Linked DNA regions of Homo sapiens: regions 2 and 3 are each linked to region 1. Evidence: fine-mapped expression QTL. A gene starts in region 1. Each other region holds a variant in brackets. All regions are shown on one strand. Distances are between the middles of the regions. Region 1 holds the start of NHLH2 (nescient helix-loop-helix 2). Region 2 has its middle 28 kb from the start of NHLH2. Region 3 overlaps LOC101928977 (a long non-coding RNA gene).

What was found. PIP is the estimated chance that this variant, and not a neighbour inherited with it, causes the effect.
Region 2: its variant is the best candidate, but not a certain one, in a credible set for the expression of NHLH2 in lung (TOPMed, PIP 0.54).
Region 3: its variant is the best candidate, but not a certain one, in a credible set for the expression of NHLH2 in caudate (GTEx, PIP 0.64).

Annotation. Positions count from the first base shown.
Region 1 is chr1:115,838,796-115,844,029 of GRCh38, forward strand. NHLH2 (nescient helix-loop-helix 2) reads right to left here and starts at 2,331. Exons shown (of 3, transcript NM_005599.3): 1 at 2,153-2,331; 2 at 1,421-1,749.
Region 2 is chr1:115,810,556-115,815,789 of GRCh38, forward strand. No RefSeq gene overlaps it. Among named protein-coding and RNA genes, the nearest start is that of NHLH2, 28 kb to the right of the region's middle. The variant T/C (reference allele first, on the strand shown) is at 2,153.
Region 3 is chr1:115,963,405-115,968,638 of GRCh38, forward strand. The region is part of intron 1 of LOC101928977 (a long non-coding RNA gene); the gene reads right to left. Among named protein-coding and RNA genes, the nearest start is that of SLC22A15, 10 kb to the right of the region's middle. The variant G/GATGGTTTAATAT (reference allele first, on the strand shown) is at 2,090.

The sequences.
Region 1 (5,234 bases):
CAACGAATACATCTGGGTTTTCACGGGGGCGGGGAGACGCGGGGTGCACTTCTCGCCCCGAGGGCCTCCGGCGAAGCAACCCGGCAGCCGCGGCGCCCGAGGGCCTGGCGCTGGTCTGGGGCTGCGCCGGGGGCGCCTGGCTCTGGGGTGCGGCCGGTCAGGAATCCCCATCCTGGAGCGCAGGCGGAGAGCCAGTGGCTGGGGGCGGGAAGGCTTCTTGGACCCCTCGCGCTTCTCCGAAATCGTAAAGAAATGACTAAACAAACGTGGGGGAGCCTTTAAAAAGAAAATTGACTCCGATGCCCTCGCAGGCTCCCGGAGCACCATCTGTCACGCAGACAGCCACACACATAGGGGACCTAGGGACACGGCGACGTGGGATCAGACAATGCGCCCGGCAGTCTGGCGACCACCTTGCGGGAAAATGCCGGCAGCCGGGCCGCTGAGGGAGGAGAGGATGCAGAGGGAAGGGAAGAGAAGGGAAGGGCCCGGGGCGGGGCAGGCGGGGACTAGCGGGTGCAGCGCGTGTTGTCCCGGCGGGAGCTGCATCTCTGCCGGCAAAGTTCGGGCGCTCCCGGAACCGGAGCTCGGCAGGCTGCAGCTGTCCCCGGGTGGCCTGGCCAAGTCCGGGCATGTCGGTGCTTAGCCTTCCTCTAACTTAACTGTGCCCTCTTGGAAACGCCACCTGGCCAGGCTTCTCTGGGGCGCCTGGAGCACTGGCCCGGACTGTGCGCCTTCTGGGAGGGGGCCGCTCAGAACCGCTGGGCTTCCGGGTAATTCGGGCTTCGAGAAAGGGCCCGGCAGGAGGAGAAAGGCCCCTGCAGGGGCTGCACGCACCGCCCCTGGGCGTCGGGAGTGAGGACCAGGCTGAGAACTCGGGGCCCCGGCGTGGGCAGCCTCCACGACGCTCGGCACGGGAGAAATCCGCGTCGGCGACGTATAGGAGCGTTTGCTTCTAGAGAAACAAAAGCAAGGGGATGGGTGATCGGTTCCCAGCACCGCACTTGCAGAGGAGCGAATTGGGCCAAAACAGCTTTAATTTCCCTGCGAGGAAATCAGGTCCTCTACGGCAAAATAAAAACAAATGCTCCCAGAGAGCTGCATGTGACTCCCTACGGGCTTTTCTCGGGTACGTTTATGAGTAGAACAACTTGCACCTACACAGTCAGCTTGAAAGGGCAGAAATAAATAGACGAGTAATGGAAAATCACAATAAGCCACTAAATAGTTGTAGTTCTGGTAAAAAGTTCCTGGGTTGCCCTCAAAGCACATTAAATTCTCCTCTAGATCTTTAAAAATATTCATAAATAGTATGCCGTGTATGCGTTTTATCTCTTTATGGAATGAACTGCATCTATAGATACAGTATGAATAATCTAACTTATTTCAAGCTGAAAAAAATTATTTAAAGGAGTCTTACCTTGCAAAAGCCTTTTTGATAATCTGTTCTCCAATCTTTAGAGTTAAAATTCCAAGGAATAGCGAGGGGAGATTCCGGAAAATATTAAAAGCAGCAAATATTTATTACATTCAAAAATGAAAAAGCAGCTGTCATCTCGCTGGTGTCCGCAGCGAGGGACAATAATATCTCAGGATGTAGACGATATGAATGATTGTTCACTTAGTTGATAGATTTTTTAAAAAACGCTTTTTCCTTTTAATTGTTCTCAAACATTGCAAGAAATTCGTTGATGATTTTTTTAAACGATGTGTTGAAAAGTCTCGTGCCTTTTTTCCTCTTCTAGGTCTCTAAAAATAACAAAAGAGATGCAGAGATAAACACAATCACATCAAAGGGCTGATTCCTCCACTTTCTAATAGCGGAATAATCAATAAGAAAGATGGTTAAGATAAGATTCCGCTCCTATCGTATGCCTTTCTTTTCCTTAATACGGCTGAGCAGAAACTGGGAAGTGCAGGACAGAGATGTGATCTTGCTCAGAAGTGATTTTTTTTTTTTTTTTGAGATAAGGCTTTGTTCAGCTGATATCTCCCCAGTTCCCAGGAACACAATACTGTAACTAGGAGCTAAGGTTGCCTCTTCCTCTTCCCTCACTTACTTGTATGTTGTATAAATAGACACCTATTTTCCAGTTTCAAAGTCTTTCAAGGTTTGGCTATATCCCCCGTCCCCAGCCCCTCTTCTCTTTACCTTGTAGCAAAATATATATAGTCAGTGGCTTGGAGATGCTTGGAGAAAGGTTGGTGAAAAGTGAACGTCTCCTGGAGTAACAGTGACAAGGAAGCAGAGAAAGACGGGAAGAGGGTGGGAGAGCCAGAGCAAAGAGGCAGAGATGCGTGTGTGGCTTCTGGGCTCTCCTGGTACCAATTGATTCAGCCTGGAGATGGTGGAAGAGATAAAGGCTTAGGAAGGGGGATGGAATTTTTTTCCCCTAAATTGATATTTAATGGGAAATCCTATTGGACAGAAACCTGGACATGAGTCACTTAATTGGACTTGACATCTGTCACAGTGTGGGAGTTTTCACAGCCCAAATATTTTAGCAGATCAGATTCCCACTGAATCTGTGCCATAAAATATAACAATTGAAAAGCAGTTCATGATAGAAATCTTAGCCTCTAAACAGTATCTAGCCGTAGTCAGGCTATTTCTCTTTTCCAGATTATTGATGAAATATTTAAGTACAAATAAACAATATATTGACTATCAAAGAATTCCCCTGGCATATTACAAAGCCACCACTTTCCCTTAATATTTAGAAAAATATTTGTGTCCAGAACATGGAAATATATACTATATAAGATGCTGCAATAAAGTATTTAGACATGCAACAGCCAACATTTATTAGAGATCATTTACATTTTAAAAGATACTTCAGTAAGGTTTGATTAAGCATATTAACATTTTTGAGAAATGATCTGCTATGAGACTAACTTATCAATAGATGGTAAGAACCTTTCAATAGATTAAGCCATTGGTGGAACTAGAAAGAGAATCCACATATTCACGGACCACGACATGAGATAATTCTACTTTTCTGTATGTTTGTTTTTCTCTCCACCCACTCATTCATTCAAGCTGAAATATGACATGCTACATGTGTTGATTATTGCACTTCATTCTTGCCCATCTTAACATGCTAATATATTGTACTGCGTGGCAGTGCTTGTGCCAAGATGTAAACACAAATTACCAGTGTGTCCCAGTACATAATGCCTTTGCCTTACATGATCCCATGGCCCTGAATTTGTATACCTTATAATAAAAAATAAAATCTAGTTCAATTATTTTGCCACTTTATGAAGATACTCATAGTTAATATCAATAACATATTATTTGTGATTATTTTAGCTTGTTTTGATCATACAAGCTTAAAGAAATAAAAGAGCATTACAGCCTTACTCCCACCCCGCCAGTTCCTAGGGGAACATTTGTGGAGAGAGGAGTCCTCACTTGTCTTCCTTAATTTTGCCCTAAAAGCAGATTTTATCACCAGGGGAGGCACATTGAGCAGCCCACCCCTGGGAGTGACCCTCCGGGTTTTTCATGGCTTCCACAAGTACTATTTGCCTTTGCCCACATTTTTGCTCCTTTGAGAGATTCCTGGACCACAATGGGGCAGGGGTCGGGGAAAGGAGGGAGTGCCTCCAACAAATAAGGGCACCAACACTCCCCAGCCTTGCTTCTGCCTAACCCCAGCACAGAGGTATATTTTAGATATCCCCAGAACGTTAAAGTGAAGATGGAAGCCGGTCCCATACAGGTGGCAATGGAAATGGGTGAGTGGATAAACACCCCAAGGTGGTGACAATGAAGGGAGAAGGGAGGTTTTCTCACTCTAGTTAGGAACAGCCAATGCTAAGCATTCACACACAACCAGAAGTGTGCACACAGATGCACACCCACAGACACCTGTACCTCCTCCCCCTTCATCATACAAGCTGGCTGGCTCTATTAGACCACCACACATCCATACTGATGGATTGAAAAAAACTGGTGGGTCTAATCACCATAGCTCTAGAGTGGGCAGCTGCTACAGTGGGAAAGGACCAGCATCTCTGGTTCCCCTGGTGTTGGGGAGTCATGACAGGGTGTGCCTATCAGGGCAGGTCCAATTCTGCTATGGTGTGTGTGATACCAGACAAATTCCCTTTTATGTTCAGGCTTACTCATTCTATACCAGCAGCCAGCATACACAAAAATTAATGCTTACAGAAGTAAGCCTGTATAAACAGGTACACACTCAGATCCATACTTAGTGATGCCTAGCCACACTGTCATAGACACAGACATGGATTCACATTCACACACACACATTCTTTCTTCCATCAAAGCCTCCCCCTCCCCCACCCCTTTGCCTTTTCTAAGACCTCCCTGGCACAGATGGCCCCTCCTTCTGTGCTCCATAAGCACTCCTTTCATGTCTCCCTTAGAGACTACATATTGTGTACCGTGATTCTTGGTTCTTGGTTACCACACTGGTCTCTCTTCCTAGGCTATGATGCTTCCAGGGGAGGTCTGTAGCTTATATCCCCAGCACTAATGTCTGAGCTTGACACATTATAGGTACTCAGTTCATTTATGATGTGACTCTATGTACAGAGGTACCCCAGATATTTGTAACATAGAAACGCTTCCACTAAAGGACACCCATGGTTCAGTTCTATCAATTTTCTTTCCTGTAAAAATGAGAATAATAATATTGCACTTCTCATTTCACAGGCTCGCTATGAGACCCAATGTATTTGAAAATATTTGATGAAATAGTAAGCACCATACAAATTATGATATTATAGACTATAAGAGTAATATTAAATAATATTATTAAATGAATGGGGAGGTGATAAGTAGTGACTTAAAAAGTCCGGCTTTGTGGCTCTGTCATATGCTAGCTGTGTGAATTTAGTTGTAAGTTACTTAACCTTTTTGGACCTTAGTTTTCTAATCTGTAAAATGAGAATAATCAAAGCATGTTATGTAATGTTATGTCATGTTTTTTTCTGAAGGTGAACAAGATAATATATGTAAAGTGCTTAAACTAATGCCTAGAACTCATGTTCAGTAAGTGTTGGCTATCATTATTATTATTATTCAGTATAAATACATATTGAGGAACAGATATATATTGACATAGAAAAATAAACATATCCAGATATACTCACCCGTGTGTGTGTGTGTGTGTGTGTGTGTGTGTGTGTGTGTGTGTGTGTGTCTGTCCATAGCTCTGGTGGCCAAACTACAATGAGCATTTTCCATGTGTCAGACCTAGGTA
Region 2 (5,234 bases), 28 kb before region 1:
TTTGGACATGACTATCTGGCAAAAGAAATAAGCTGGAGAGTTGAAGAAGGACAATTAGACTTTTTGGAAAAGCTGAAAATTAAAAGGTGAAGTGCTGTGTTGGACAAAAGCAAGACCACCAAGGCCACTTGGAGAAGAGCGGAGTGGCCTTGGACTCTGGATAAGCTGGGAAACATCCTCCCAGTGTTTTCTGCAAGTGTTCATTCCTGCCCATCTGTTCTGTGCAATACATAAGTGCCCCACTTATGTTGTTTGCACAGAACCTACTCTGTGGTGAAATGCCAGGTTCTGGCTGCATGCTTTCCCAACAGTCCCTTCTTCTGTCACTCCAGAGTTGGGTGTGTGTCAGGGGTCCCCAGGCGCTCAAGGTTTCATTGACAATTCATTAGAGAGATTCACAGGACTCAGAAAGCTGTTGTACTGATGGTTACAGGTTATTCCAGCAAAAGGATATAGATTAAAATTAGCAAAGGGAAAAGATACATGGGGCAAAGTCCAGGAGAAACCAGGTGCAAGCTTCCAGATGTTCCCTCCCAATAGAGCTGCACAGGATGTATTTAATCCTCTCAGCCTCAGTGTGTGATAACACATATAAAGTGTTGCCAACTAAGGAAGCTCACCCAAGCCTTGGTGTCTAGAGTTTTTATTGGGGATCTGTCATGTAGGCATGCTGTACCTGTGTGACTGGTTTCAGCTACTCAGACTCCAGCACTCCTAGACCAAAAGCAAGTGTTTGCCACAAGTCACATTGTTAGCACAATCTGATCCAACTGGTAACATGTGACCCAAGGCCTCAAGCAAACAAAATGTCCCTTATCAGGCAGAATATCCAGGGACTCAGAGCTTATCTCCCGGAAACTGGCCAAGGGCCATTGCGGAAATCAGGCCTTTCTTGGGAATGTATAGGGTTTGAGCAACTCAGATCTCCTGAGCTAACACTTTCCTTCCCAGCAAGAAGGGGTAGTTTGGAGGCAGAGGGACTTTTTCTGGCCAGTGGCCTCAGGACTGAAGCCTTTCTGCATAGAGACTCAGCTCCCCACAATAGCAGTGTTTTGGTAACCATGAGCATTTGGTCAGACCATCTGTGCTGGGCATAAGGGTTGATAGTGTCCACACTACCTATGCTACTGCTGAGAGTGGGAAACCTGCTGGGGGATTCCTTCAAGGATGAGTCATCCTCAAGGGGCCTCAACCCTTTGTCCCCACCGAGCATCACTCCTAAGTGCTACCCATTTCACCCTTAAACATTACTCAGACCTGCCCTTCCTCTGAGCCTCTGCCAGCATTACCTAGTCCAGATCAACGTCATCCTTCACTTGTACCATTGCAGCAGGCTCCTCCCCAGCCTCCTGGCCCACTGTCATCCCACTACAGTCAGAGTGAGCTTTAATGAAACTAAGTCTCCCCTTCAGTGGCTCCCCATGGCCTGTAGGATGAAATCCAAGCTCCATGACTCTGAATGGAACATTCTCTTGCCCCTACTCCAGCCTCTTGTCTCCTCTGCCTCTCAAGATTGCCTTTGACAATCCAAATTGCTTGTAGATCTCAGTATAGAGCTTGTTGTTTCTGTCTGTTGTTTCTTTGCACCAAGAGCCAATCATAATCCCAAAAGACACAATCTCAAATGTGATAATCCCACATGTTGAAATCCCCAAAAATCAAAATCACAAAATTACAATTCTGGGAAAAGTAATTTTAAAATTAGTTTAAAGATATTTTATTTGAGATACATATAAAAATGACAGAACACTCACAGGCCACTTTATACAATAAAATAGATAAAAGTAATACATTTTTGCAATCATAACTACTCAGGTATACTGACAGTCACATCGTGATGAGCAGACAACTGTATTCATAAAGAAATAGGTCAAAAAGTGAAATGTATATATAAATATCATTATGGTTGGTAATTGTGTACACCCAGTCTCATAACTGTAACCATCTGAAATACTGTGATAAACAACCTAAGTCTTTTGATGAAATAGATCAAAAAATGCAATGGGTCACCAACTCATCATATGCACTTTCTCAAAGAGCTGAGATCTCGAGAAATTGTTTTTTTTTTTTTTTTTTTTGAGACGGAGTCTCGCTCTGCCGCCCAGACTGGAGTGCAGTGGCACTATCTCGGCTCACTGCAAGCTCCACCTCC[T/C]GGGTTCACGCCATTCTCCTGCTTCAGCCTCCCGAGTAGCTGGGACTACAGGCGCCCGCCACCACGCCTGGCTAATTTTTTGTATTTTTAGTAGAGATGGGGTTTCACTGTGTTAGCCAGGATGGTCTCCATCTCCTGACCTCGTGATCCGCCCGCCTTGGCCTCCCAAAGTGCTTGGATTACAGGCGTGAGCCACCGTGCCCGGCCGATCTCGAGAAATCTTATCTTTCATAAATACAGGTGCACAAAAAGGACATCTCTTCATTTGTTGAGGAAGTTTCAGTGTTTTCTAATGTCCAAGGCAGCAGAAGAAAAGTCTGTTCCAGCTCTCAGATGCCAATAGCCTTCTGTATTTGTTCTCTCCAGGACCCTTGCCGATTGGATGGTGTCCTCTAATATTGGGTAAAGATCTTCCCCAGCTAATCCACTCAGTCTCAGGCACTAATCTCCTCTGGAAACACCCTCACAAACACACCTAAAATAACGCTTTACCAGATTTCTAGGTATTCTTTAATCCAGTCAAGTTGACATTTAAAATTAAGTCCACAAGTTCACCCCTTGTCAACTTGGCACTCACACACATCTCCTTAAACATACCTCATTTCCAATGAAGACAATAACAAGTAATAGTTCTGCCTAAAATGATACGTCTATACTGTGATTGTAATTTAGACTTTAGGGGTTTAAATCTTTTGGGATTTCAGTATTCAGGATTATGGCATTTTGGATCATGTCTCTCAGGATTATGACCCAAACCCCTTTGCAACAGTCCTACTGCCTGGAACATTGCTCTCTTCTCACTTCCTTGCCTTAGCCTAGCCACCCTCTACTCCTGGACTGAGCTCAGGTATCACCTTAGGAAGTCTTCTCCAACTCCCTTCCTTAGCCCCACAAGCCAGGTTAGCTGCTTTCCTCCTCTGTGCATTATAATTATCTGTTCACTTGCCTGCCTTCACTTCTAGAATAGTCTCCTTGAAGACAGACATGGTGTCTTATTAGTTTTTTTTTATCCCAAATAGCTAGCACAATGCCCGCACAGAGCAGGTGCTCAGCAATTGTTTAGTGTATGAATAAATGAAAGGGTAAATTAATAAATGCATTAGTAGACATGAGAATGAATCCAATTTGAGCCAGACTTGTCTTGGCTGCTTTTTGAGAAGTCTGTCTTCCTCTTAGGCAGTTTCTTGCACTGTCATAGTCTTCTCTGCCTAAGTCTTCCTCTTAGGCAGTTTCTTGCACTGTCATAAGCATAGACTCTGGGTGTGTATCTCAATTCTGCTTAGTATGTGAACCCAGGCTAGTTACCTAATCTGTCTAAATCTCAGTTATCTTAGAGTACAGCAGGGACCCTAATCATGAGGTTATTGTTAATATTCAGTGAGATGAGGTCTATGAAGTGCCTAGTGCAGTGCCTGCCATATGATGAGCGCTTCAGATAGGGAAGTGTTTTTATTGCCCCTAATTGATTTGCTTCTACATCTTGTCTGGTCTCCCACCTGGACCAACTGGAAAAGCCTTCATGGCTATAATCTTCTGAATCTTCAAGTCTCATATTCAGTGGATAGCAAAATGCCCCTTTCTCCTGAGATTGGGATTTTGGTGGAAGGTAGGGGAGCTAAGTTCCCAAGACAAGGGTCTGCTGGCATTGTTTACTAGATCCCCTAACCACTTGCTTCCTTTGACCCCAGGAGCTAACTGGTCACCAGGTCCTCTGATTCTGCCACCTCAGATTTCTAACTCCAGTTCTCATTGCCATTGTTAGTAAACTTTACAATTTAGGGACAAGGGACTAAACCACTGAGACCATGGCCTCTCCTACTATGTCATCCCTAACCATTTATTTTGCTTCTAGCCCATTCTCAAACTACTGTCCAAGTCCACCATCCTCATGGGGTGATTATGAAGGCTAAGTGAATGCCTGTGAAGTGTTTAGCACGATGCCTAGATTATAGTGAGTACTCAATAAATGGTCACTATCATCAGATCTGATACCATTCCTCTGCTTAGAAGCTTCCACTGGTCCACAACTGTCTATGGAATGAAGTTCAAATTCCTGAGCACAGCATTGAAGGCCCTTGATGATCAGAACTCCACCTACACTGAACTTTTCCAGCTCTGTCCCCATCTTACATTGTTCTCACTTGGAATGCCTTTTTCCCACCTTGTCTGTTGAAACCTGCCCACAGAAGCCCAGTGTGAATACCATTTCCGTGAAGCATTTCTTGATTCACTTAGTTGTAATTAATCATCTTTTCTCTTGGGATCCCACAGAGTTTAATTTATATTTCCACACTACCTCTTTTTGCCCTTTTTGTATACTAATTCGGCTATTGAACTTCTTATCCCTCCTCCTACTAGAGAATAAATTCATGGTGCAAACAAACATTGGCTACAGGCATCTTGGCAATCAGCAATAGAAAATATGTGGGTGGGACAGACCAAGCCTACAAAATAGAGCTGCCAGAAAGCCTTTTGGAGTAGACTTAGAGAGAGCGTGTGAGGCTAGCATGCCAAGGAGAAGCTTATCAGAGTCACAGTGATCAAGCCTAAGCTAAGGGCTGGAGATGACTGGTAGTCAGTAGTCTTGCAAAGATGTCTGCTCTCCAAAGAGAATGTGGACTTTATTTGAATGGAGACTGACCTACGATTAACTGGCACCATCTCTTTATGGGTCATATTGTCTCAGGGACACAATAATAAATAATAAATTCATGGTGCAAACAAATGTTGACTACAGGCCTGTGCTTGTGTCCACCTCTCACAAGTAGTTAACAGAGCTGAGCACAGGCTCCAACTCTTTGCATTATCTGCATTATCCCAAGCCAGGTGAAAAACAGGGTTAGAGACAGGCAAGACCTCTAACTATGCACCCAGAAACTTAGCATGGGAGGGAACAGGATTCTTCTGCAGGTGGTTCTGAGGGTAGTCTGGTCCTTTGGCCTGTGAAGGACAAGGGAGGGAGGAGCTTGAGGCAAAGGCAAACTTGTCCCCCAACTTGTATTCTGTCATAATTCCTTCTCAGACACAAAATTTTCTAGTTTTCCCTCATTGCTGCTGGTCTTTTCCCTCCCCTTTCTTGTTA
Region 3 (5,234 bases), 120 kb after region 1:
AGCTCTAAATCTTGAAACAAATCCTGGAAACACATCAAAACAGAAACTCTTTAAAGCATAAATCACACAGGACCTATAAAACCAAAAAACAAGTTAAAAGGCAAAAACATAAAACAAAAAATCCAAGGTGCACAGGCAAAAAAATAGCACAATGAATGCAACAGTACCTCACATCTCAATACTAACATTGAATGTAAATGGCCTAAATGCTCCACGTAAAAGATACAGAACCTCAGAACGGATAAGAACTCACCAGCCAACTACCTGCTGCCTTCAGGAGACTAACCTAACACATAAGGACTCATATTAGCTTAAAGTAAAGAGCAGGGGGAAAGGCATTTCATGCAAATAGACACCAAATGTGAGCAGGGTAGCTATTCTTATATCTGACAAAACAAACTTTAAAGCAACAGCAGTTAAAAGAGACAAAGAGGGACATTATATAACAGTAAAAGGCCTTGTGCAAGAGGAAAATATCACAATCCAAAACATATATGTGCCTATCACTGGAGCTCCCAAATTTATAAAACAATTACTAATAGACCTAAGAAATGAGATAGACAGCAACAAAATAATAGTGGGGGACTTCAATACTCCACTGACAGCACTTGACAGGTCATCAAGAAAGACAGTCAACAAAGAAACAATGGATTTAAACGATACCTTGGAACAAATGGACTTAATAGATATATACAGAACATTTCATCCAACAACCACAGAATACACATTCTATTCAATAACTCATGGAACTTTCTCCAAGATAGACCATATGATAGGCCATAAGAGTCTCAATACATTTAAGAAAATTGAAATTATATCAAACACTCTCTCAGACCACAGTGGAATAAAACTGGAAATCAACTCCAAAAGGAACCTTCGAAACCATACAAATACATGGAAATTAAATAACCTGTTTCTGAATGAGCATTGGGTCAAAAACAAAATCAAGATGGAAATTAAAAAATTATTCAAACTGAACGACAGTAATGACACAACCTATCAAAACCTCTGGGATATAGCAAAGGTGGTGCTAAGAGGGAAGATCATAACACCAAATGCCTGTATCAAAAAGACTGAAAGAGACTAACTGACATTCTAAGGTCACACCTCAAGGAACTAAAGAAACAAGAACAAACCATACCCAAACCCAGCAGAAGAAAACAAAAATAACCAAGATCAGAGCAGAACTAAATGAAACTGAAACACACAAAAAAATACAAAAGGTAAATGAAACAAAAAGCTGGTTCTTTGAAAAGATAAATAAAATTAATAGACCATTAGCAAGATTAACCAAGAAAAGAAGAAAGAAAATCCAAACAACCTCATTAAGAAACGATACAGGAGATATTATAACTGATACCACTGAAATACAAAAGATCATTCAAGGCTACTATGAACACCTTTACGTACATAAACTAAAAAACCTAGAAGAGATGGATAAATTCCTGGAAAAATACAACCCTCCTAGCTTAAATCAGGAAAAATTAGATGCTCTGAACAGACCAATAACAAGCAGTGAGACTGATATGGTAATTAAAAAATTACTGTTCGTGACTACCCTGACCAACATGGTGAAACCCCATCTCTACTAAAAATACAAATTTAGCTGGGTGTGGTGGTGCATGCCTGTAATCCCAGCTACTTGGGAGGCTGAGGCAGGAGAATCGCTTGAACCCAGGAGATGGAGGTTGCAGTGAGCTGAGTTCGTACCATTGCACTCTAGCCTGGGCAACAAGAGCGAAACTCTGTCTCAAAAAAAAAAAAAAAATTTACCAACAAAAAGTGCCTGGGACCAGATGGATTCACAGCAGAATTCTACCAGACATTCAAGGAAGAATCGGTACCAATCCTTTTGACACTATTCCACAAGATAGAGAAAGAAGGAACCCTCCCTAATTCATTCTATGAAGCTAGCGTTACCCTAATACCAAAACCAGAAAGGACAAAACCAAAAAAGAAAACTACAGACCAATATCCTTGATGAACATAGATGCTAAAATCCTTAACAAAATACTAGCTAACCAAATCCAGCAACATATCAAAAAGATAATCCACCACGATTGAGTGGGTTTCATACCAGGGATGCAGT[G/GATGGTTTAATAT]ATGCAAGTCAGTAAATGTGGTACACCACATAAACAGAATTAAAACAAAAATCACACTATCATCTCAATAGATGCAGAAAAAGCATTTGACAAAATCCAGCATCCCTTTATGATTAAAACTCTCGGCAAAACTGGCATATGAGGTACATACCTCAATGTAATAAAAGCCATCTACGACAAGCCCACAGCCAACATAATACCAAATGAGGAAAAGTTGAAAGCATTTTCTCTGAGAACTGGAACAAGGTAACAATGCCCACTCTCACCACTCCTCTACAACATAGTACTGGAAGTCCTAGCCAGAGCAGTCAGACAAGAGAAAGAAATAAGGGGCATCCAAATCAGTAAAGAGGAAGTCAGACTGTCACTGTTTGCTGACCATATGCTCATTTACCTCGAAAACCCTAAAGGTTCCTCCAGAAAGCTCCTAGAACTAGTAAAATAACTCAGCAATGTTTCCGGATACAAGATTAATGTACACAAATCAGTAGCTCTTCTATACAACAGCGACCAAGCAGAGAATCAAATCAAGAACTCAGCCCCTTTTTCAAGGGCTGCCAAAAAAATAAAATACCTAGGAATATACCTAACCAAGGAGTCAAAAAACCTCTACAAGGAAAACTACAAAACACTGCTGAAAGAGATCATAGATGATACAAACAAATGTAAACACATCCCATGCTCATGGATAGGTAGAATCAATATTGTGAAAATGACCACACTGCCAAAAGCAATCTACAAATTCATTGCAATCCCCATCAAAATACCACCATCATTCTTCACAAAATTAGAAAAAACAATTCTAAAATTCATATGGAGCCAAACAAGAGCCCACATACCCAAAGCAAGTCTAAGCAAAAAGAACAAATCTGGAGGCATCACACCACCTGATTACAAACTATACTGTAGGGCCATAGTCAACAAGCCAGCATGGTACTGGTATAAAAATGGTACATAGATCAATGGAACAGGATAGAGAACCCAGAAATAAACCCAAATACTTACAGCAAACTGGTCTTCAAGAAAGCAAACAAAATCATAAAGTGGGGAAAGGACACCCTTTTCAACAAATGGTGCTGGGATAATTGGCTAGCCACATGTAGGGGAATGAAACTGGATCCTCATCTCTCACCTTACATAAAAATCAACTCAAGATGGATTAAGGACTTAAATCTAATGCCTGAAACTATAAAAATTCTAGAAGACAACATTGGAAAAACCATTCTAGACATTCTTAGGCAAGGATTTCATGACCAAGAATCCAAAAGCAAATGCAATAAAAACAAAGATAAATAGTTGAGACTTAATTAAACTAAAGAGCTTTTGCACAGCAAAAGGAACAGTCAGCAGAGTAGACAGACAATCCACAGAGTGGGACAAAATCTTCACAATCTGTACATCTGACAAAGGACTAATATCCAGAATCTACAATGAACTCAAACAAATCAGTAAGAAAACACAATCGCATCAAAAAGTGGGCTAAGGACATGAATAGACAATTCTCAAAATAAGGACAAACAAATGGCCCAACAAACAAGAAAAAATGCTCCCCAGCACTTTGGGAGGCCAAGGTGGGCGGATCATGAGGTCAGGAGATCGAGACCATCCTGGCTAACATGGTGAAACCCCGTCTCTACTAAAAATGCAAAAAAATTAGCTGGGCGTCGTGGTGGGCACCTGTAGTTCCAGCTACTCGGGAGGCTGAGGCAGGAGAATGGCGTGAACCTGGGAGGCGGAGCTTGCAGTGAGCGGAGATCGCGCCACTGCACTCCAGCCTGGGCAACAGAGCAGCAGATCAAGACCCCGTCTCAAAAAAAATAAAAAAAAAATAAAAAATAAATGCTCAATATCACTAATGATCAGGGAAATGCAAATCAAAACCGCAATGTGATACCACCTTACTCCTGCAAGAATGGCCATAATAAAAAAATCAAAAAACAGTAGATGTTGGCGTGGGTGCAGTGATCAGGGAACACTTCTACACTGCTAGTGGGGATGTAAACTAGTACATCCCCACCTACATGTGGAAAACAGTGTGGAGATTCCTTAAAGAACTAAAAGTAGAACTACCATTTGATCCAGCAATCCCACTACTGGGTATCTACCCAGTGGAAACGGAGTCATTATACGACAAAGATACTTGCACAGGCAGGTTTATAGCAGCACAATTCACAATTGCAAAATCGTGGAACCAATGCAAATGCCCATCAATCAATGAGTGAATAAAGAAATTGTGGTGTATATATTTGATGTAATACTACTCAGCCATAAAAAGAAATGAATTAACGGCATTTGTAGTGACCTGGATGAGATTGGAGACTACTATTCTAAGTGAAGCAACTCAGAAATGGAAAACCAAACATCATATGTTTTCACTGACATGTGGGAGCTAAGCTATGAGGATGCAAAGGCATAAGAATGATACAATGGACTTTAGGGACTTGGGGTGAAAGAGTGGGAGGGGGTCGAGGGATAGAAGACTACAAATGGGGTGCAGTGTATACTGCCTGGGTGATGGGTGAACCAAAATCTCACAAATCACCACTGAAGAACTTACTCACGTAACCAAATATCACTTGTACCCCAATACCTTATGGAAAAATAAAAAACAGAAATAAAAATAAATAAAAATGGAAAAAAATAAAAGCAATGCAAATTGCTGGTTTTAATTTAAAAAGCCCAGTTGGCTTTGAGACTCTTGATATACGTCATTGTCATCCTTATGCAATACTCAACCAATAGAAGTGGTTCTGGAAGTTCCAATAAGCATCTATATTTTAATCCTGAGAAACTGTGAGGCATTTGTGCCTGCATAGGCCAAGTTTTTCATCCATTCTACTGAATCACTCTATTTATTGACTCCATGAATACAGCAAATTCATCATGTCACTCAGTATTCCCTAGTTATATAACTCTTCCATGTAAGAAATAGCATCAGCAACAGCAACAAAAACAGTAACATCACTGACATTTTCATTAAATATGAGCACTCAGGAATGAACCTGTTGAATTAAATGAATGCACTATTATCTAAGCTTAGTGCCTCTTGGACAACATGTAAAATTGGACTCTTAGCAAGCAATACACTCTACTATCTAAATTCAAATATAATTAACGGTTAGTTTTCCTCATATTTCATATCTCT